Linked DNA regions of Homo sapiens: regions 1, 3 and 4 are each linked to region 2. The links come from fine-mapping of genetic effects on gene expression. A gene starts in region 2. Each other region holds a variant in brackets. All regions are shown on one strand. Distances are from middle to middle. Region 1 overlaps RTN4IP1 (reticulon 4 interacting protein 1). Region 2 holds the start of CRYBG1 (crystallin beta-gamma domain containing 1). Region 3 overlaps CRYBG1 (crystallin beta-gamma domain containing 1). Region 4 overlaps CRYBG1 (crystallin beta-gamma domain containing 1).

What was found.
Region 1: its variant is fine-mapped to the expression of CRYBG1 in spleen (GTEx, PIP 0.90).
Region 3: its variant is fine-mapped to the expression of CRYBG1 in whole blood (TOPMed, PIP 0.96).
Region 4: its variant is fine-mapped to the expression of CRYBG1 in tibial nerve (GTEx, PIP 0.90).

What each region holds. Positions count from the first base shown.
Region 1 is chr6:106,592,857-106,597,856 of GRCh38, reverse strand. The region is part of intron 5 of RTN4IP1 (reticulon 4 interacting protein 1); the gene reads left to right. Among named protein-coding and RNA genes, the nearest start is that of RTN4IP1, 34 kb to the left of the region's middle. The variant T/C (reference allele first, on the strand shown) is at 2,225.
Region 2 is chr6:106,357,914-106,363,115 of GRCh38, reverse strand. CRYBG1 (crystallin beta-gamma domain containing 1) reads right to left here and starts at 2,399. Exons shown (of 22, transcript NM_001371242.2): 1 at 2,035-2,399. The coding sequence starts at 2,207. RefSeq lists silencers at 2,289-2,368, 2,389-2,598 and an enhancer at 1,527-2,393.
Region 3 is chr6:106,535,439-106,540,640 of GRCh38, reverse strand. CRYBG1 (crystallin beta-gamma domain containing 1) reads right to left here. Exons shown (of 22, transcript NM_001371242.2): 9 at 1,112-1,238. Among named protein-coding and RNA genes, the nearest start is that of RTN4IP1, 91 kb to the left of the region's middle. The variant A/G (reference allele first, on the strand shown) is at 2,559.
Region 4 is chr6:106,543,584-106,548,785 of GRCh38, reverse strand. CRYBG1 (crystallin beta-gamma domain containing 1) reads right to left here. Exons shown (of 22, transcript NM_001371242.2): 11 at 5,189-5,202; 12 at 4,089-4,215; 13 at 3,853-3,998. Among named protein-coding and RNA genes, the nearest start is that of RTN4IP1, 83 kb to the left of the region's middle. The variant T/C (reference allele first, on the strand shown) is at 2,683.

The DNA.
Region 1 (5,000 bases), 230 kb before region 2:
GGGTGCGGGGAGCGGGGAGGGATAGCGTTGGGAGATATACCTAATGCTAGATGACGAGTTAGTGGGTGCAGCGCACCAGAATGGCACATGTATACATATGTAACTAACCTGCACAATGTGCACATGTACCCTAAAACTTAAAGTATAATTAAAAAAAAAAAAAAAGAAACAAAATGCAGAAAAAAATTCAAATTACAAAAGAAACAAAAAGATAGGCTGGGCACAGTGGCTCACCCTGTAATCCCAGCACTTTGCTAGGCTGAGGAGGGCAGATTGCTTGAGCTCAGCGATTCAGGACCAGCCTGGGCAACATGGCAAAACCTCGTCTCTACAAAAAATACAAAAATTAGCTGGGCATGGTGGCTCATACCTGTAATCCCAGCTATGGAGAGGCTGAGGTGTGAGGATCACTTGAGCCCAGGAGGTCGAGGCTGCAGTGAGCTGTGATCACACCACTGCACTTCAGCCTGGACAGAGTGAGACCTATCTCAAAAAAACAGAAAAAGATAAAAACAGAGTCAAGAGAAAGTATCAAATATTGATGACAGGCAAGGAAAATTGATATATGGATACTAGGAGTCCTCGAAGGGGAAAACCAAAGCAAGGGAATTGAACCCATATTAAAACAATAATTAAAGAAACTTTCCTACTGTCCTGAAATTAAATGATTTGAAATTACATATTGAATAGACACATCACTTTTCTAAGGACATGGACCCAGACTGAGCAACACTAAGGAAAATTACTAATAAAAATGTGGAGAAAAATTATAGTGAAATTACTGGCCTTTAAAGAAAAAAGAAATAAGATCCTTTGGAAATCTAGACAAAATAGCACATGTGCTACTTATGTGTCCATATAAGAAAAAAGATGACGTGACTTATAAGAGAAATAAAATTAGACTATCATGAGACTTTTTGGCAGTAACACTTTTGGCAGAAAAAAATGGAGTAACATATTTAAGATACTCAAGGAAGAGTGCGCCAAGAATCTTTTATACAACAAAACAGGCCTTCAGGTATCATGGACACATACAGACTGTTATCAACATGAAGAACGTGGGGAATATTGTTCTTCTGATCCTTTTCTGAGGAATCTACTAGATAATGAGCTTCTGACTAGGAATGACTATGAAGACATTTTAAGGACTAGTGGTAAATGTTCAACACAATTACCTGTAGAACAAAACTAAATGAGGGCTTAGAAGGAGAGAGTGTAGGAACAGCCATATGTTCTGATAAGGTAAATACAGTGCAATAGTTGTCATTATTTTTGAGACAGTGTGTTGCTCTGTCATCCAGGCTGAGATGCAGTGACATGATCACAGCTCACTGCAACCTCAACCTCCTGGGCTCAATGATCCTCTCACCCCAAACTCCTGAGTAGGTAGAACTACAGGCACATGCCACCATGCCCAGCTAATTTTTTCACGTTTTTGTAGCGATGGGGTCTTGCTGTGTTGCCTGGGCTGGTCTCAAATTCCTGGCCTCAAGCAACCTTCCTGCCTCAGCCTCCCAAAGTGCTGGGATTTTGTAGTCTCAAATTAGAATTGGAAGTATCAATATGAACTCAAGAGATATTTTGTGTATGTGTGTATGTAAAGCCATCACTTGAAATATCATTTCTCACTGAAACAAGGCAGGGCTTCTTAGAGAAGTAGCTGATTTCAGATCTAGAGCACAAATATAAAGAATTAACCTGGAGTATATTAAATAGCAAGGAAGATATCAAAGACTAGTCAGGTCATGTCAAAAGACTCAAGAGCTAACTTGAAGAAATGCCCAAAGATGTAACAGTTTGAGCTTCAGTAATAATAATGACCATTACAATGGGTTGAAACCTTTTAAATATATTTAAATCCATGAGTTCATGATACTTTTTTCAAAAGAGGTCACTTTTGGAATTTGATAGGGAACCAATTTATTATCTTATAAACTGATAAAGAAAAACAGTTAAGCATTTGTCTTGCCTTTCCTACATTAACTGTATAATTGAGCAGACAAAATAATATGTGAGGGGCAGTGATATGAGGGGCAGTGTTATTTTGTGAAAGTATTCAGGCTGGACGCGTTGGCTCATGCCTGTAATCTCAGCACTTTGGGATGCCAAGGCGGGCAGATCACCTCAGGTCAAGGGTTCCAGACCAGCCTGGCCAACATGGCGAAACCCCTTCTCTAATAAAAATACAAGAATTAGCCGGGCGTGGTGGTGGGCACCTGTAATC[T/C]CAGCTACTCGGGAGGCTGAGGCAGGAGAATTGCTTGAACCTAGGAGGCAGAGGTTGCAGTGGGCAGAGATCACGCCACTGCACTCTAGCCTGGGACAGAGCGAGACTGTCCCCCACAAAAAAAAAAAAAAAGAAAGAAAGTATTCCAACTACTTAAATAAAAGAAGTAGAATTAGAAGATCACTATTTCGCAACCACCAATAAGCAGATATGGGTATTAAGCATTGACAGCTGCTAAGATAATAAAGAGAGCCTCAAGCAGACATGATGTGCCTCCTCTAGTTTTGCCAGACACTGTCCATAGTTTTGCTAAAGGGATTGAAATGGAATCAGATCTAGTCTCCAGATCCATCTGCCGAGTTGCAGAAAATACAGAGGACAGAGCGACGTGTGGAACTGTCCCGTGGGTGTGCAGTTAGAAATTCCAGACTGTGGGAAACTCCACAGATCAAATGGCCTAGATTCTTCCATAGATAAATTATAGGAAAGCAAAGGGATAGAACAGGAGCCTATGATTTAAAAGAGACTTAAGGCCGGGCACAGTGGCTCACACCTGTAATCCCAGCATTTTGGGAGGCCAAGGCGGGTGGATCACGTGAGCTCAGGAGTTCAAGACCAGCCTGGCCAACCTGGTGAAATCCCATATCTACTAAAAATACAAAAATTAGCCAGGCGTGGTGTGACGTGCCTGTAGTGCCAGCTACTCGGGAGGCTGAGGGCAGGAGAATCACCTGAACCTGGGAGGTGGAGGTTGCAGTGAGCCGAGATCATGCCACTGCACTCTAGCCTGGGCAACAGAGTGAGACTGTCTCAAATAAAAAACCAAAACAACCCAAAAATAAATAATAAAAAAAGAGATTTAAAAGATACCACGTTTTAAGAATGCACAAGACTATAGTGTCTAGAGACTGCATTGTTGGGTGATAAACTTTTTGAAATGCAAGGAGGTGATTACTATAAAAATCAGAATAATTATTTTGGGAAAGGGTAGGAGGGGCTTCTGTGGTTTGGGGCACATGGGAGAATTTTTGGCATAGCTTCCAGTGTGCTGCTGCTTTATCTGGGTGGTGTTCACCCTATAGCTGTTTTCTTTCTTTCTTTCTTTTTTTGTTTTTTGTTTTTTGAGACAGAATCTCACTCTGTCACCCAGGCTGGAGTGCAGTGGTACGACCTTGGCTTACTGCAACCTCCACCCCCGCCGGCTCAAGCGATCCTCCCACTTCAGCCTCCTGAGTAGCTGGGACCACAGGCATGCATCACCAGGCCCAGCTACTTTTTTGTATTTTTAGTAGAGACGGGGTTTCACTACGTTGCCTAGGCAGGTCTCAGACTCCTGAGCTCAAGTGATCCATCCATTTCAGCCTCCCAAAGTGCTGCGATTACAGGTATGAGCCACCACACCCCGTCTATAGGTGTTTTCTATAGTTGTGTTTTATATTACATGAAAAATTTTTATTAAGTAAAACTGTTTTTAAAACATTTTCATAATGTTCAAAGATAATAAATAGCTCTAAATGGGAAAGGAAAAACTAGAAATTTGAGGGGAAAAACCAGAAATTTGAGGAAAAAAACCTGTTTCAACATGTGACAGATTCTTCCTGAGGATTTAATACTGTTTAAAGAAAAACATGTATTAAATGTGGGTGCTTAGAACATACTTTTCTTTTTCCTCAATAGTTTCTTTTTTAATATAGGTATAGAGAAAGGATGGTCACAATGAGCTATTCATCTTGGATTATATTCTTCACATATTTGAATTTGATTTGGGACTTGCTGTGAAAAGCAACGTATCATTACACTCAAGTGTCTCTGTTTGCAGCCCATAAACAATAAATTGTATATCATATCACTCCTAAATATTTCAATTCCCCACAGATTTTCAGGATATATAAGTCTTTGGTCAATGTTGCTTTTTAAAAGTGAGAAATTGGGTAAGATTATGAATAAGTTAAAAACCCTTTATTTACATTTTGTATTTAACAGAAATTTACTAAGCACCTTTGTGTGCCATGGAGTAGGGATTCAATAGTGAACCAGACAAACACAGATCCCTTGTATTCTAGTGAGCCTTTATATCTTATATTAAGGAAGTTCAGGAAATTGATACTTAGGACAAGATTGAGAAAACAAGTGATCTCTTATGATCTATAATTATCTGCACAAAAATTTCTTAGTAATCTTCAAGTGGCTATTCTCAAATTAGCTGAAAATAGCCCCCTTTTAAGTCTATGAAATTAACATTATAGAAAAGAATTTTAGCAATTTTGGAGCAGAATGCTTTCTGGATACTTAATTCTGAATAACATTAGAATTTAGCTCTCCTTTTAATTTAAATCTAGTTATTCTTTATTATTTTAAAATATAAGGCATCTGCATTTTAAAACCTGGGTAACATTTATTTAGGTTTTCTTACTCCAAGGGAGAGGACCTGATCCAAGTTTTTAAGAAAAAATGATTATAGTTTCTTCCCCTTCTTTTTAAGAGAACCTTTTCATATGTTACCTATTACTTAATAGCTCATTACTTTGACACGCTTTCTGATTCAATATTGTGTTAACACTTATTAGAGATGCAAATGAAGATATGTGGCATTTTAATGTTCTGTATACATTTTAAATAGTCATTTTTCTGAAGACATACTATTTTTGGGCCATTTAACTTTGCTATCCTTGAAAGTGCTAAATTTGAGGCTTTTTTTTTTTTGAGATGAAGTCTCACTCTTGTACCCCAGGCTGGAGTGCGATGGCACGATCTTGGCTCACTGCAACCTCTGCCT
Region 2 (5,202 bases):
CGCGCCACCATGCCCGGCTAATTTTTGTATTTTTAGTAGAGACGGGGTTTCACCGTGTTAGCCAGGATGGTCTCGATCTCCTGACCTCGTGATCCGCCCGTCTCGGCCTCCCAAAGTGCTGGGATTACAGGCGTGAGCCACCGCGCCCGGCCTCCTATTTTAAATTTTATACTAAAATGTATTTACATTTGAATAAATTACCTATAGCTGTGTATTATTATGTTTTGATAGACAGTAAATGATAAGACTAGATCTTAAAAGGAAAACCACGATGGAAATGTTTAAAATATTTACTGAGGTAATAGAAAAGAACTTCAATGTTGGGTACATTAAATACTGTATTTTGTTAGAAAGTATAATCTATAATTAGGCACAGTAAACGTTTGAATAGGTAATATATTTCTACTACAACTGATTACCAATGTGGATGATAAAATATGAGAGAAAAATAAAATGACTTCTTTCTTAGGTTTCCTACCCTTACCCACTCACACCTAGACCTCCCCGCTGCAACCACTTGCGCTTCTCAGGAAGTGCCACGCTCTTCTAAGTGCTGGTGATGTGCACAGTGCAGCCCCTGCCTGGAACTCGCTGCTCCTCCCTGTTTCTGCCTAAGCCACTTCACCTATCCTCCTCCAGGAAGCCTCCCTGATCCCCTCCTGTGTGCTGGCATCTATCATTGCATTTTTTGGTATCCACAAGAGACTAACAATTCTTTGATGACACAATTATTCCTGTCTCTCATTGTTTTTTATATCGCAGTACATGGCACTTAGCTAAGGTACTCAATACAATAAGTGAATGAAAATAGATCGTAAAATTGACTTTTTTTACAAATAAAAGGAGAGGCCGGGCGCGGTGGCTCATGCCTGTAATCCCAGCACTTTGGGAGGCCGAGGCGGGCGGATCATGAGGTCAGGAGATCGAGACCATCCTGTCTAACACGGTGAAACCCCGTTTCTACTAAAAATACAAAAAATTAGCCGGGCGTGGTGGCGGGCGCCTGTGGTCCCAGCTACTCGGGGGCTGAGGCAGGAGAATGGCGTGAACCCGGGAGGTGGAGCTTGCAGTGAGCCGGGATTGGGCCAGTGCACTCCAGCCTGGGTGACAGAGCAAGACTCCGTCTCAGAAAAAAAAAAAAAAAAAGAAAGAAAGAAATAAAAGGAAAACCATGTCTAAAATGCAAATTTTGCACAATTTTATTCTGGCCCTCATAGGGTGTATTTTAAAAACACATTTGGAAGGATTTACTGGACATTGTCAATTGTCCATCACTATAAATATTTCACACCTCTGAGCCATGTAAATACGCTGTTACTTCAAATTGATTATTATTCAACGAATGCATAAACTCTGATGCTATAGTTGAATAATTATACATATAGAATAAAACCACTTCAAAACCATGATAAAAATCAAAAAGCACAATGGTAACTACAGTTTTGATAACTAGGTGCTCTCTAGCTCTGCCACTGGCTCCAATGGGGAGAAGCCATTTATCCTTTGGTCTCAGTTCCTCCACCCATGAAATGGGGGTAACCATTCCTGCCACTTCCTCCTCCCTTCGTATGTTGCGAGGAGAATGGGGGTATAACATCTGTAAGAGCACAGATCTTACAGATATTCACAATAAAGAGCTTTACAATAAAGACACTAGCTCAAAAGCAGTGCCTAACCCCAAAGCAGAGTTCCCGCCATCATTTAGGACGGTAACAACCCTCACTCCCCGCCGCTCTGGTTAGCAGGCTGATGCGGGAGGCTCCTGCATGAAAACTTTGCAGTCATACTAAAGGCCACATGCGTGGGCACAAGTTCCTCTCGCCGGTGCTTGGTCTGAACCAAAAGCCGCGAGGAACCTCGTCAACCCCAGCGGCTACGATCGCTCCCCTCCGGACCCGGGTACCCTCCTGCGGACTGAAACAGACCCCGGGGCTTTCCCCTCCTCCAAGTGGGGTCAGGAGTCCAAGGGCTAGCGCAGCAGGAGAAGGAGGAGGAGGAGGAGGTGGGACTGGAGGGCTCGGGCGAGGAGCTCACCTGGCCTCTCCGGCAGGCGCCGGGAGCGGGTGCGGAACGAACACCCCACAGTCAGGCGGCGCCGGCTGCTGCTTCTTTTTGGAGCGCCAGAGGTGGAAGGTGGTGTGCTTCTTAGGGGGCCTGCACGGGCTGGGCTCCCCGGGGTCGCCCTGGGCTGGCGGGGACAGCGGCATCGTCTTGTCCTCCTCCCGCTCCGACTGCCGGGACGCGGTCCTCTCTGCCGCCCGGGCCCTATGGAAGAACACACCTGAGCGCCAGCTCGCCCGCCTTTCTCAGCGCGCCGTGGGACCCCGCCCCCTCGTCGCGGATGCGGGGGGACGGCCGCGGGTTGCAGAACCAGCACCCAGCGCAGCGCGAGCAGCACTGCAGCCCGAGCTGTTGGGGCGGAGGCGGGGACCCAGCCGCGGAAGAGCGCCCCCGCGCGGCGCGGGCGGCAAGGGGCGCTAGCCCAGGTGAGGCGCTCGCGCCGGGAGCCCCAGGTGAGGCAGACACGCCCCGGCTCCCCACCCCGGGGGCGCGCGGCGGCCGTGGGACAGCGACACCTACTGGATGCTCTGGGCACCGCGACTCCCGACACTGCATCCCAGGCTCTAAGATGGGACCCAGAGCCGGGTCGGGCTTCCACAGCGCCTGGGGTGCAGCGGCCATTGTCGCCTGCGGAGTTGTTGGCCGCTCTTGGCCTGTGACAGGCTGGCAGGGTGAGTCGCTGCTTAGCCACGAGCCCCGCCTGGAGAAGGATGGGAGAGGCACATCCCGGGGCTGGGCCGCCCAGCAATTAGGACTCTTCCACTCTGATCTCTGGGTGGCTTGGGCAATGTCATGTGCTGGTGGCTTCTGTTCCTGTTCGTGAACACGGGTGGCAACTCCGCCAACTCGTCTCCTCTCTCAAGAGTCTGAATAATTAATTTGTACTCACATCTCATAAAACACAAAAGGATTAAAAAAATTAAAAACGCCAGAAGGGAATTAGGCATATTCCCCAATTCCCCAAGAGCTTAATAGATCCCTCGCAGTAAATTAAATGCCAGTCCCACAAGGTATTTACATCATCTGCATTACTGTTGATGACTTTCTTGTCTTAACTTCACAGTCGTGGCTAAATAGCAAAGGAAATTAATACTTAAGCAAAGTAAGTAAACGAACAATTATTTTGGGCATCATTAGAGCAAAGAAAGTGCAAGAACTAAGCACTACTTAAAAATTCAATGCAGTACAAGATCCTCTTTCACGGTAATGTCTTTATTTTCCTCTTTGAAAACACAACTCATTCATTCGTTTATTCACTCATTCAAGGAACATTCATTTTTATTTGTTTTTATTTACATTTTTATCAAGATGTAATTTATAGACAGTAAAATGCACAAATCATAAGGGTAAAACTCAAATTTTTACATATTTATGTGGTTGGGGTGTGAAAAGTTTTTTAATGGAGAGTTGACATTGTCCTAGAAAATTCTTCCGTATGTGGCTTTTAAATGTATGATTATAGGCCAGGAGCGGTGGCTCACGCCTGTAATCCCAGCACTTTGGGAAGCCGAGGCAGGCAGATCACTTGAAGTCAGGAGTTTGAGACCAGCCTGGCCAACATGGTGAAACCCCTTCTCTACTAAAAATACAAAAAAAAAATTAGCTGGGCGTGGTGGTGGAGGTGCGCCTGTAATCCCAGGTACTCGGGAGGCCGAGACATGAGAATCGCTTGAACCCAGGAGGCAGAGGTTGCAGTGAGCCGAGATGGCGCCACTGCACTCCAGCCTGAGCAACAGGATGAGACTATGTCTCAAATAATAATAATAGGTAAATATATATGATTATAAAAATATAGAATACTTTCAAAACTTTAAAAATCTCCCTACTGTCCTCTTCCAGTACATTACCCCTCCCACCTGTAAAAGTTAACCATTATTTCATCCTCTTTTGCTGGAGATTAATTTGACCTTTTCTGGAATTTCATTTTAGTGGAAAATCACAATATGTACTCTGTTTCTGGTTTGCTTTGCTCAATATTAGTCGGTGAAAATCATCTATATTGTTGCTTATATTGTAGCAGTTTTTTGTCTTGTTTTGTTTGAGACAGGGTCTCACTCTGTCACTCAGGTAGGAGTACACTGTTACCATCACCTCTCACTGCACTCACTGCAGCCTTGACCACCTGAGCACAAGTGATCGTCCCACCTCAGCCTCCTGAGCAGCCAGGACTACAGGCACACACCACAGGACCGGGCTTTTTTTTTTTTTTTGGAGGGGGTACATTTGTAGAGACTGGGTTTTTCCATGTTGCCTAGGCTGGTCTCGAACTCCTGAGCTCAAGTGACTTGTCCGCCTCAGCCTCCCACCAAAGTGTTGAGATTACAGGGGTGAGCCCCTGCACCTGACCCATAGCAGTTTTTCATTTAAAAAAATTATTGTATACTGTTCCATGATATGAATATGCCACAATTCATTTATCCATTATTGTGGATGGACATTAGGTTGTTTCCAGTTTGGGGCTATTATGAATAAAATTGATATGAACCTTCTGAGATGTACACATTCATTTCTGTTGGATACTTATACCCGGAAGTTCAATCGTTGGGTAATACAATATGCATATGTTCAGCTTTAGTGAATTCTGCCAAAAAAGTTTCCCATTTATATTCTTTCTAGCATGTTTGAAATTTCCAGTTTTTCAATATCTTCATCAACACTTGATATTAACAATCCTTTTCATTGTGGCCATTCTGATGGGGATGTGGTGGTATCACATTGCAGTTTTAATTTATATTTCCTCAAGAAACAGTTATTGAACTTATTGAGTACTGTACTAATTATGTGCCAGGCCCTGACTTGGGGGAGGAGGCAATGACAGATGCATAGATTATATCATATATATATATATATATATATATATATATATATATATATATATATAAAATCATCTGATATATATATCATGTGATATACATATATATGTACACAAACACACATCAAAGGCTAAAAGAATCAGTGGTGGTATGTACAAGGTATTAGGGGAGTTTAGAAAAGTTACTAACTTAGCGTGGTAGTTTGGAAGGGAGGAAGGGGAGTGGTCAGTAAAGATTTACTATGAAGATGGCCCTTGGATTGAACCTTAAAGGGCAAAGGGAACAGTAAGAAAAGGCAAAGAAAAGGGAAAGGGAAGAAGGGAAAAGA
Region 3 (5,202 bases), 180 kb before region 2:
AAGCACATGACCTTTTCAAAAGTAATCCTGTTTGAACACCATAGACTTTGGAGACTTTTCATCATCATTACAAACTGCTCCTAAAACCTGGATGAATTCTTTCATACATTCACAAAACTAACAAAACTTTGTTCTTTGAAAGTGAGTTTAATTTTAGAAACAAAAGCCCAAATCATTTGCATTAAGACCAGCAAACATACAGATAATTAAACCAAATACTTTGGAAGGATGGGTAAAATTAACATTAAAAAAATTGTCTTCCTAACTTTCTAATTTGTCTCAAACTGTCTCAGAAGACAACTGCGAAGTGCAGCTTCAAAAACATGTTTGTAATGGGAGCCTCATCTCACTGTGGGTATTTAGGGAACAACTTCCATGCTGCAGCACACACTGCGCTCAACACTGGGGACAAGACAGATGCGGCCTGCTTCCTCCCAAAGCTGACAGTCTAGCGGAAGAAACAAAGAACAAAGCAAGACACTGGGACAAGGGAGAGGAAGCACAAAGCTTCCACAGCAGATACTCAGGAGGACAACACTCATCTGGTCCAGCCCCAGAGACCCCCAAGACACCACCCACTCGTGTCACGGCAGCCGAGCCGGTCCTCAGCGTGCCCTGCTCTCTCTCAGGCTGCACCCTAGCTCACACAGTGCATTCACCGACAGCTCCATTTAAAAAATCATCCTGCTAATTTTTTAAGACTGAATTTAATTTAGCATGAAGCTTTCCTAATTATCCCTTTTCTGTCACATCACCCACAACTTGGAATTGTATGTATCTTTGTCCTGTTTTTCCACCAATGTTTAATTCTTCACTTTCCTCACTTGTTAAACCTACACTGCGCTGAAGCTTTGCGCACCCATCTGCAGCTCTGCAGGGCTGAGAATGCCTTAAAGACAAAGGACATAGTCTTACCTGCCTTTTTTTTTTTTTTTTTAATCTATAGCATCTAGCAAGTTATTCTTTCCATGATTTCTATTGAGCAATAGGTCCAATCTACTACAAATTTGTTTCTTAAAAGTCAGCTTTATTGCTTCAAAGTCACACCCTGTGAATTACCACGTCAAGCTGACAAAGAATCACCACAAGGACATTTGGATTTCATTTTTACCATTTTCAGAGGCCGCATGGATCCAATGTACGCTTCTTCTGTATCCCAGAAGGACAAGTCAGGGTATTCACCAGGTTCCAGGATGAAAGGAACACCCTGAAATCCAGGTTCTTCATAAATCAGCCACCTAAATAGCCACCATGGAAGGAAAGAAAGGGAGCCGACTCATCATTTGTTTCAGTTTTTCCTTCTGTCTGGTACCCAGGATGAGAGGAAAAGAACAGGAGAGGATACGGACCTACATAATGAATGGTTGGACTCAGGTGTTAGAATCACACTAGACTCAAGGAAAAATAAAGCCATTATATGCCCCTATTCTTGATCTTTTACTTTTCTCCTTGGCTGGCTTTGTCCCCTTATTTTAATTTGTATTATTAATTGCTCCAAAGTTCCATCTAATCATTTGTCATGGTGCCAAACATTAGTAACAGCTAACATCTCCCTAGAGCTTACAAGGAATGCCACTGAGAACTTCATCTAATCCTCACAACCATGCTATGAGGAAGAGAAGCTATTGTCCCCATTTTATAGATAAAGTTAAGTAAGTTGCCCAAGGCCACACAGCTATAAGTATGAAAGGCTGGAATGATTCAAGCCGATTCCAGAACCAGGTTCCTAATCAATTTTTTTTTTTTTTGACGGAGTCTTGTTCTGTCACCCAGGCTGGAGTACAGTGGCTTGCTCTCAGCTCACTGCAACCTCTGCCTCCTGGTTCAAGTGATTCTACTGCCTCAGCCTTCCAAGTAGCTGGGAGTACAGGCACACACCACCACATCCGACTAAGTTTTGCATTTTTTTTTTAGTAGAGGGGGTCTCACCATATTGGCCAGGCTGGTCTCAAACTCCTGGCCTCAGGTGATCCGCCCGCCTTGGCCTCCCAAAGGTGCTGGGATTACAGGTGTGAGCCACCATGCCCAGCCCTAATCATTTTTGTGATGGCAATTTTTCTCATTGCAGGAAGTGCATTGAACACAGTTTACTCTTTTCACAGTTACTCAGGATCATCACTGTGAGCATTATTTAATGCACAGTGGTGTCCTCAGGGGCTCTGAAGTTCTGTGGGGCTGCTTGTTCCCAGGCCACAAAGCTTTTTGAGTTCTTGGTTCTGATTGTTATGGCTTTTCAATACCACACCCTTCTATCAGCTTGTCAGCTGTCACTTCTGCTTCAGTTGGGGAACCAGCAGCCCCACCCTCCTCTAATGTGCCAGAAATCAGGAAACCAGAAAACCATGCCTACTAGCCCTGTCTCTAAACTTTACAAGGTCTTCTTGTAAACATCTTCGTTCCTGGGAAGGGTTCTGAGAAGGTGAGGATGCTGAAGAAGTGACTTTTCTATAAGAGAGGGGTTAATGTACCTGCTTCATAAACAAACATAGACTTCTTAGTGATCACTTACACTCATCAATTCGGTTAGTTTTGCTAAAATGTTTTAGCCGTGGTACTCC[A/G]CCATGTTGTGTTCCCCAGAACACCATGCCAAGAAGAGAGTGGCTGTAAATGAAATCTTTTACCAACAAAACGGGTCTGACCCCTCCCTCTTTGCTTTTTTCTTCTTCCCAATTTTGGCCCAAGGCACATTTTTGGCGGTGGTTTTTGTGAAGATTCCGCTGGATAAACTGGTAACTTCTCTAGACTCTCTAATTATACAGAGATTTACAACCAGGCTCCTACTGATGATTTGACAACACACACATGAAAGAATGTTGGGAGGCCAGGTGTGGGATATGGGTAGGAGGTCAGAACTACAGTGTTAGAAGTCAGGATGATGGTTCCTGGGGAAGAGGGCGTGAGGACGCATGAAAGAAACGGGTTTCTGCGATGCTGGGAATGTTCTTTTTCTTGATCTGAATGGTGACTGCGCTTGTGTATTCACTTTGTGAAAATTCACTCAGCTTATATATTTAGGGTTTATGTACCTTTTTGTACAAATGTTATGCTTCAAAAAAAGTTACCTTAAGGAAAAAAAGAGGCTTATCTTTTAAATACTACTGTAATGCTTCTAAACCACAAGAAAACAGACGCTAAGAATAGGGTACTTTACACTTCCTTATGTTTAAAGCATGACAGCCAAGGATACGTTACATGTATTTTGGAGCTCAAAGCTATCACAGGCACAGTACCCATGGATTTTGTTCTCTAACAAAATAATGGCAGTTCTGTAACACATTATGGTATTAGGCTAACCAAGCAGGTCCCAAGTCTGACTTCTTTACAAGTGAACAGGTTTAATTTTTCAAAAACTGAATGTACGGCTCACGAGCAAGCGATCTGAGATTTTGAAATGATTCTTACCGAAGTACCCTTTTCATTAAGTCTTTCCTTCTATAGCTTGAGTTCAGAGGGGATTTATTCATCTAATACTAAACATTTCACTTCTGTTGAAGCATGTGGTTTAGTTGCATAACATTCATGGAAGGAAAGTCATTCTGGGTAGAGGGGAATTTGTGAAAAAACCGAAAACATGAATGAATGCATTTGAAAAGACTGCTGTTCTGAAAGTTCTCCCTTAGTAAATGAGTGCTGAAGGCCTGCTGGGTAATTCAAACAGACATTTATTAATGCTGGGTGGACTTTGAATTTGAAAACTCATATGCAGAGTATGATTCACTTTTTCTAAATTCTGTTCCAATAAGATACATTATTTATGAGGCCATCAGGAGAGGGGGAAACTATCTCCAGGCAGGGTTATTTCAGTTTCTAAAGGTAATCTTTTATTTTCCCATGTACTTGGGTCATAAGCTTTCGCCAATATAGATTAAAAAGTACAACTTTATTGTCGTACTTAACAAACAGTATGATTATAAAGCCCAAGCTTATTTTTTAAACAAACAAATGTATACCTACAAATGAATATTGTTAAAGTAATAACAATGGCCATCTATATGTTTATTTAAAATATTTGTCCAATTACTCTTTTAGAAATACCCTTTGAGTCACACAAGAAAAATCAGTCTTATCTTGTTCACTTGCTCTTAAACAAAAACAGCACTTCCAGATGGATCTTAAGTTGTGTTCCCTAGACATGGCTGTACATGAATATTGGCCATTCACAGAAACCAACTGGATACTTGAAAAATTAAATATGAAGGTACTGACTTTGAGGTTATTCACAAGAGAGGGGGCTATGAATGTCAAAGGGGAAAATGAACCTTTACAATGGAAAGATGGAGGAGGCACCACTTTAACCAAGCAATCAAACTTGGTATTGCTAAAGGGCAAGCTAGTTAGCACATGCCACCTGCTGTGATACAACATAAATATATGGCACTATCTATATGAAGTATCCGTGCCAAAACTGTTTGGCCTGAACCTAACCATACCTTAAGACCTAAGCCCTAGTAGATAGGAAATTCGGGCAACAGAAGAACATGCTAAATAGTAGCATGAGGGAACACTCAGACAAATCTAGAATGTGGCACACTCTCTAAGACAGCTGGCCTAAATCTTTTTAAAAGTTAGTGGCTCACGCCTGTAATCCCAGCACTTTGGGAGGCCGAGGCGGGTGGATCATGAGGTCAGGAGATCGAGACCATCCTGGCTAACAAGGTGAAACCCCGTCTCTACTAAAAATACAAAAAATTAGCCGGGCGCGGTGGCGGGCGCCTGTAGTCCCAGCTACTCGGGAGGCTGAGGCAGGAGAATGGCGTGAACCCGGGAAGCGGAGCTTGCAGTGAGCCGAGATTGCGCCACTGCAGTCCGCAGTCCGGCCTGGGCGACAGAGCGAGACTCCGTCTCAAAAAAAAAAAAAAAAAAAAAAAAAAAAAAAAAAAAAAGTTAGTGGCTTGGGAAACAAAGATGGGGTATTTTAGAGATCTTTAAAAAGAGACTTAAAAGAGACAGAACAATCAAACGCATTTATGTGAACCTTGATTGGATCCTGATTTGAAAATGCAAATCTATAAGAGACATTCCTGAAGCAATTGGGAAAATTTGGTGATGGACTATTGAACAGATATTATCATGGACACTTTGTGAATTTTCTCAAGTGTAATAATGATACTTATGCAGGGGAATACCATTAGAAAGAGAGTCAGGCTGAATCCTATGTGGAATGAAGGGTCATGATATCTCCAATGTACATTGAAGTGCTCA
Region 4 (5,202 bases), 190 kb before region 2:
GCACATGTACCCTAAAACTTAAAGTATAATAATAATAAAATTTAAAAAAAAAGAAAATCTACGTTACAAACACTAGGACTTTAAAAAAACAACGAACAATTAAAGAAGTAGAGCCACATCAAAAAAAGGGTTCTCACCAGGGCTCCGAGTCTGTAACAAGTAGAGAGATAAGAGGGTTAAAGGCCTTTCTGTTTGACTTCAAGGTTTGGAGGGAAAAAAGACAGTGAGGTGGGAGGCTGAATGCCAAGGAGAGAGGACAGCCCTGGAAGCAGCTTTAGCCAGTACTCTGTTCTTTTTACTAACAAGTATGGGTACTGTATTTTCCTATGAAACTAAACTACTTGTAAGTAAATACCCAACACCCAGCTAAGCCTATCTCTAATTCACTGAAGCTGAAGCTGGAAAACAATTTATTAAGATGTTACTTGAACTGACAGTAGTGTTGTTTTCCCTCCAAGATACCTGATGAATCACCCATGAATGGGGGGAGTGGGGGAGGGGAGAAGCCGCAAAACCCAGATCTGAGATTCTCTGCTCTATGATCCGAGAGTCTACTTACAACTTACACTTGGGGCTCTTAAGAAAATCCCTCCCTGTCCTTGTCCAGATGTATTCTGTACACATGAATCAACACTCCTCTGTTTAAAGACTGGTGGGGAGACGGGGGAAAGGCATGTACACAAGTACTAGCAGGTCCCAGCCTGGTGGAATAATTGCTCAGAAGATAAGGGCAGCAGGGTAAACCTGCCCTTCCGTGGAAGGCCAAAGGAAAAAGAATTTAAAACAACAACACTTTTCGTTTTCATCTGAATACCAGAAATATTTCATTTTGCTCCTAGTTTTAAAAAACTAGCCCAGTTTCCACTATTTGAGCAAGAATATAGCATAGAACTAGAAACTGATAAGCAGGGAGTTTCTTTCGACATTTCCAGTAAGAATCAAATGCAGTTCCTAAAAACCTCAGTTGCTGGTTTCATGGGCATCCTTCCTGAAGGCTGTTCTCTGTTTCAGGACTAATGATGAGTTTACTGCCCAGGGGATGTATTACCCATGTGATGGTGAGCCTCCTGGGAGATACTTTCATGGAACAAGAACTTCAGAAGAGTTTTTTTCTGACAATGCATGCCATAATAAGAAATAAAGAACCAAGCTAAAATACTTAATTGCCAATAAAAATAAAGCCATTAAAATACAATAATTTTCCTTTGAAACTATTTAAAGTGAATAGGTAGTCCTCCTCCATCATCTTGGCTCATCTCAGCCTTCCTATCCTATCCCACAGGCCTAACTCCAATGCCACCTCCTCCACAAAGTCTTCCTTCCCTGTGTCCAGACTGGAAATTAATCTCTCTCTGCTGTGGATTCCCAGAGCATTTAATCTGTACCTCTTTTGTAGCAATAATTATGTTTTACATAAATACCGTAACTTCTTTGAGGACATAATACAATGCTTTGCACATAACAGACCGCAATAAATACTTGTCAAATGACAAATCGAACAAAATATGAGGAAGCACCTGGCCCTGGTAAATACAAAAGCCCTTCCATATGCAAAGAATTTCAAAGGAAGTGGTGTGTGTGTGTGTGTGTGTGTGTGTCCACGTATGTGTACGTAGCTCCCTTCAACTTCCCCCTTCTACCAAAACTTAACTGCTACAGCCAGAAAAAAGAAGCTTAAGCCAGGAAATGCAATTAGAAATGACTAAAAATAGAAACATATAATAGCAGCACTTTATAAAGGGAACTGATTTCAAGTAAGCAAGGCCTGGGTTAAAAAGGAAAGGAGATTGGCTCAAGGCACAATAATTCTACCTGTGTTAATAGCATCATCTACAAAATACCTAAGGGAATTCATTCTACCCAGCATCCTTTTGCTTCCTCTGCCAGGGTGGATGACTAGGCTCTGACTAATAGAACCAACACAACTGGTGAGTATCAAAATGTACAACTGTTTCACCAGACTAAGTTGGTCACTATGTTTTCCTCCTAAATAATTAGCTTTAAAGACAATCTAAAATACTGCAGAGCCCCAGCAACATTTCAGATAACTTGTACCTTATATTTCAGATGACTTCTGGCTTTTGCAAACAGGCTACTGATTCTAAAATGTTAGGGCTCCAGAATAGGACCCAAGAGTAGGCATTTCCTGCTGAGAATGGAATACCCGGAAATCACTGATACTCTGCCAAAATGGCACCACATGCAACGGCCTAGACAAGAACTTGTTGAACAAGGTTTTTTTTACTCTATTTACTAAGAGTAAAAGTTAAGCATGTTCATCAACTTTTAGTACATTGTACACACTTTTCAAATATCCAGGGCTATTGTGGGAGGCCCCATGAGATACAATGGGGTTGAGGCTAGGATGATTCAAATAGTCTATGTCACTATGACAACAAAAACCTAACACCAAACACTTTCAGCATAACCAATGTCACATTATTTCATGTAACTATTTGAGAATACTCTCACTTATAACAAATTAGAATAGACATTAGCCTGGATTACAAGAATAATTATGTAACTCCCTATAACAGCCATCTGCTGTTTTTGCCCATCTGGCATCTATCTCCCCACTCTTTCTGATGTCCCTGGGGAACCACCAACCCCATTCATATCTAAGTGGCTCCTATGGGATAGACCCTACATCTCAGCTCTGGAGATGGACACGTAGCCCAGACA[T/C]GGCCGTCTCTGTGGCTACAGTGATTGGTTCAGGCATGTGCACATGACCCAAGCCTAGGAAAGCAAAGTCAAACATGGAACTTGTGAGAAAGAGAAGCTCTTTCCACTGCAAGAAATGAGCTGGGGCCAGGCATGGTGGCTCATGCCTGTAATCCCAGCACTTTGGGAGGCCAAGGCGGGTGGATCACCTGAGCTCAGGAGTTTGAGACCAGCCTGGGCAACATGGCAAAAACCTGTCTCTAAAAAAAAATACAAAAATTAGCCAGGCCTGGTGGCACACATCTGTGGTCCCAACTACTTGGGAGGCTGAAGCAGGAGGATCGCTTAAGCCCAGGAGGCAGAGGTTGCAGTGAGCTGAGATTTTGCCACTGCACTCCAGCCTGGGTGGCAGAGTGAAACTCTGCCTCAAAAAAAAAGAGTTAGGAGAACAAAAGCTGAATGTGGCCACAGGCCACCAAATGCAAAAGGCCTACCTAAAGTCAAGTTAACACAGAAAAAAGCCCAGTCAAGACACAGAGACTAAGTTCTGATAGTGTTTGATCCGCTGCATCTAGGCATGCCTGAAGCAAAATCTTCTCCAGGACTTTTTAGTTACTTAAGCCAGTAAGTTCCATTTTAATCCCTTGAGCCAATTTAGCTTGGCTTGCAGTCACTTCATCCCAAAGAATCTTGACTAAACATCTTTCAATAAAAACTTGCTTCACCACTAATAAAACAGTCAACTGCTAACTCCACGTACATAGAACAATTATTTTTATGTCAAACTAATAGTGAAGAAATATACTGGAACAGGTGTAGGACCACAGGAAAATCTACTGGGACTTTGACCCAGCCTCAGGTTTATGTTAGATTACTATTATTATTATTTGATCTCCATCATTTAAAAAATTCACTATCTTTCTGTGCAGAATGACAAGGGAAACAGATCTGTAGATTTCTATCATGATACCCAAAGCCTACCCCAAACGTAAAAAGAAGAGATGGTATGAGAACGATTTTTAAAGAGAGTTAACGAAAATATCATGACAGCAACTATTAAATGACTGATTTAATGTTAAGCTGTTGAGATATTTGTGTATTGAATGCCTACTCTGTGATAGACTCTTACCAGTTTAAAACAAACCAAGGTAAAACGCATGTTTAAAATTCCAACTGGATTATTTCACTTACACTCCACTCAGTACATTAATAGACTGTGTCTTCACTCCATATCCAGTCTCCTTTAAATTAGCAACAATTCCCAATACATCAATACTGGAACCTTTGGATCCAAAGTTTTTTTCACTGTACATTATCATGTGAGCATTTGAAAAATCCTATTGAGAAAAAAAATTCAAAATTCAAAGGCTAGCCATTTATTATCCAAAGAAGACCAAGTATTAGCCATTAGCTTGTCCTTTACTTACACCTAATATAGGTCGTAAAGACTGAAGCTCTCCATTGTAACCTCCCCAGGCTTTCCAGTCCCTGTATTCTCCTTCTTCTAGCAAATACTGATGACCGGTAAATCCAGGTTTCTCATATGCAACCCAACTGCAACATAAAGAACACGAGGAGTAGTCATTTCCAGACATGTTAACATTTTTTCAAGGTACATATCAATTTCATTGAAAAATACAAATAGTTATAAAGCTAGACATGACCTTCTGCTTTATTATCATTGGAATTCTTTAAAATTTAGGAGAATAACAGAATGGCCCCAAGAAAATAACCTAAGAGACATATATCAGAGTTGTATAAAAAAGGGAAGGGGAGCGTGTGTGTGAGTGGTGTGTATGTGTGTGTGTTTAATCAGGGCTGACTCAAAAGAACCTCAGCAAGCAAAACTGGATAAACTCACTTCAGATAGTAACAAAAATATTATGAATAGTTAGCGATTTACAAGAGCAACTTTAGTGTGCACTTCTATGGGAAATGTGCAAGATCTATAAGATGCAAAAATATAAAAATCAGAAAGCGAACTATCAAACTGTTCAATAGCTTGGAGCATAATTCTAATAAGCAAGGTTGTAGATTTGATCAACTTGAACAGGCCAATGTATCAGCCTTCCTTGACAGAGTTTCGCTCTTGTTGCCCAGGCTGGAGTGCAATGGTGCGATCTTGGCTCACCGCAGCCTTTGCCTCCTGAGTTCAAGCGATTCTCCTGCCTCAGCCTCCCAAGTAGCTGGGATCACAGGCATGTGACACCACGCTCAGCTAATTTTGTATTTTTTAGTAGACATGGGGTTTCCCCATGTTGGTCAGGCTGGTCTTGAACTCCTGACCTCAGGTGATCCGCCCGCCTTGGCCTCCCAAAGTGTTGGGATTACAGGTGTGAGCCACCACACCCAGCCTCAAACTGCTTTCTTAAATCCAGTCACTATAGGCTGAGGAGAATGTGGATATAACTGTCAAAATTCACCATACTATAGAATCAGGAATGTTGTTTTTAGGGGGGAAAGGGCACATTTATTACTTAATATTTCGGAAAAAAAAGAAATCCTAACAAGTCACCCATGTACTTACATGCCTCTTAGAAC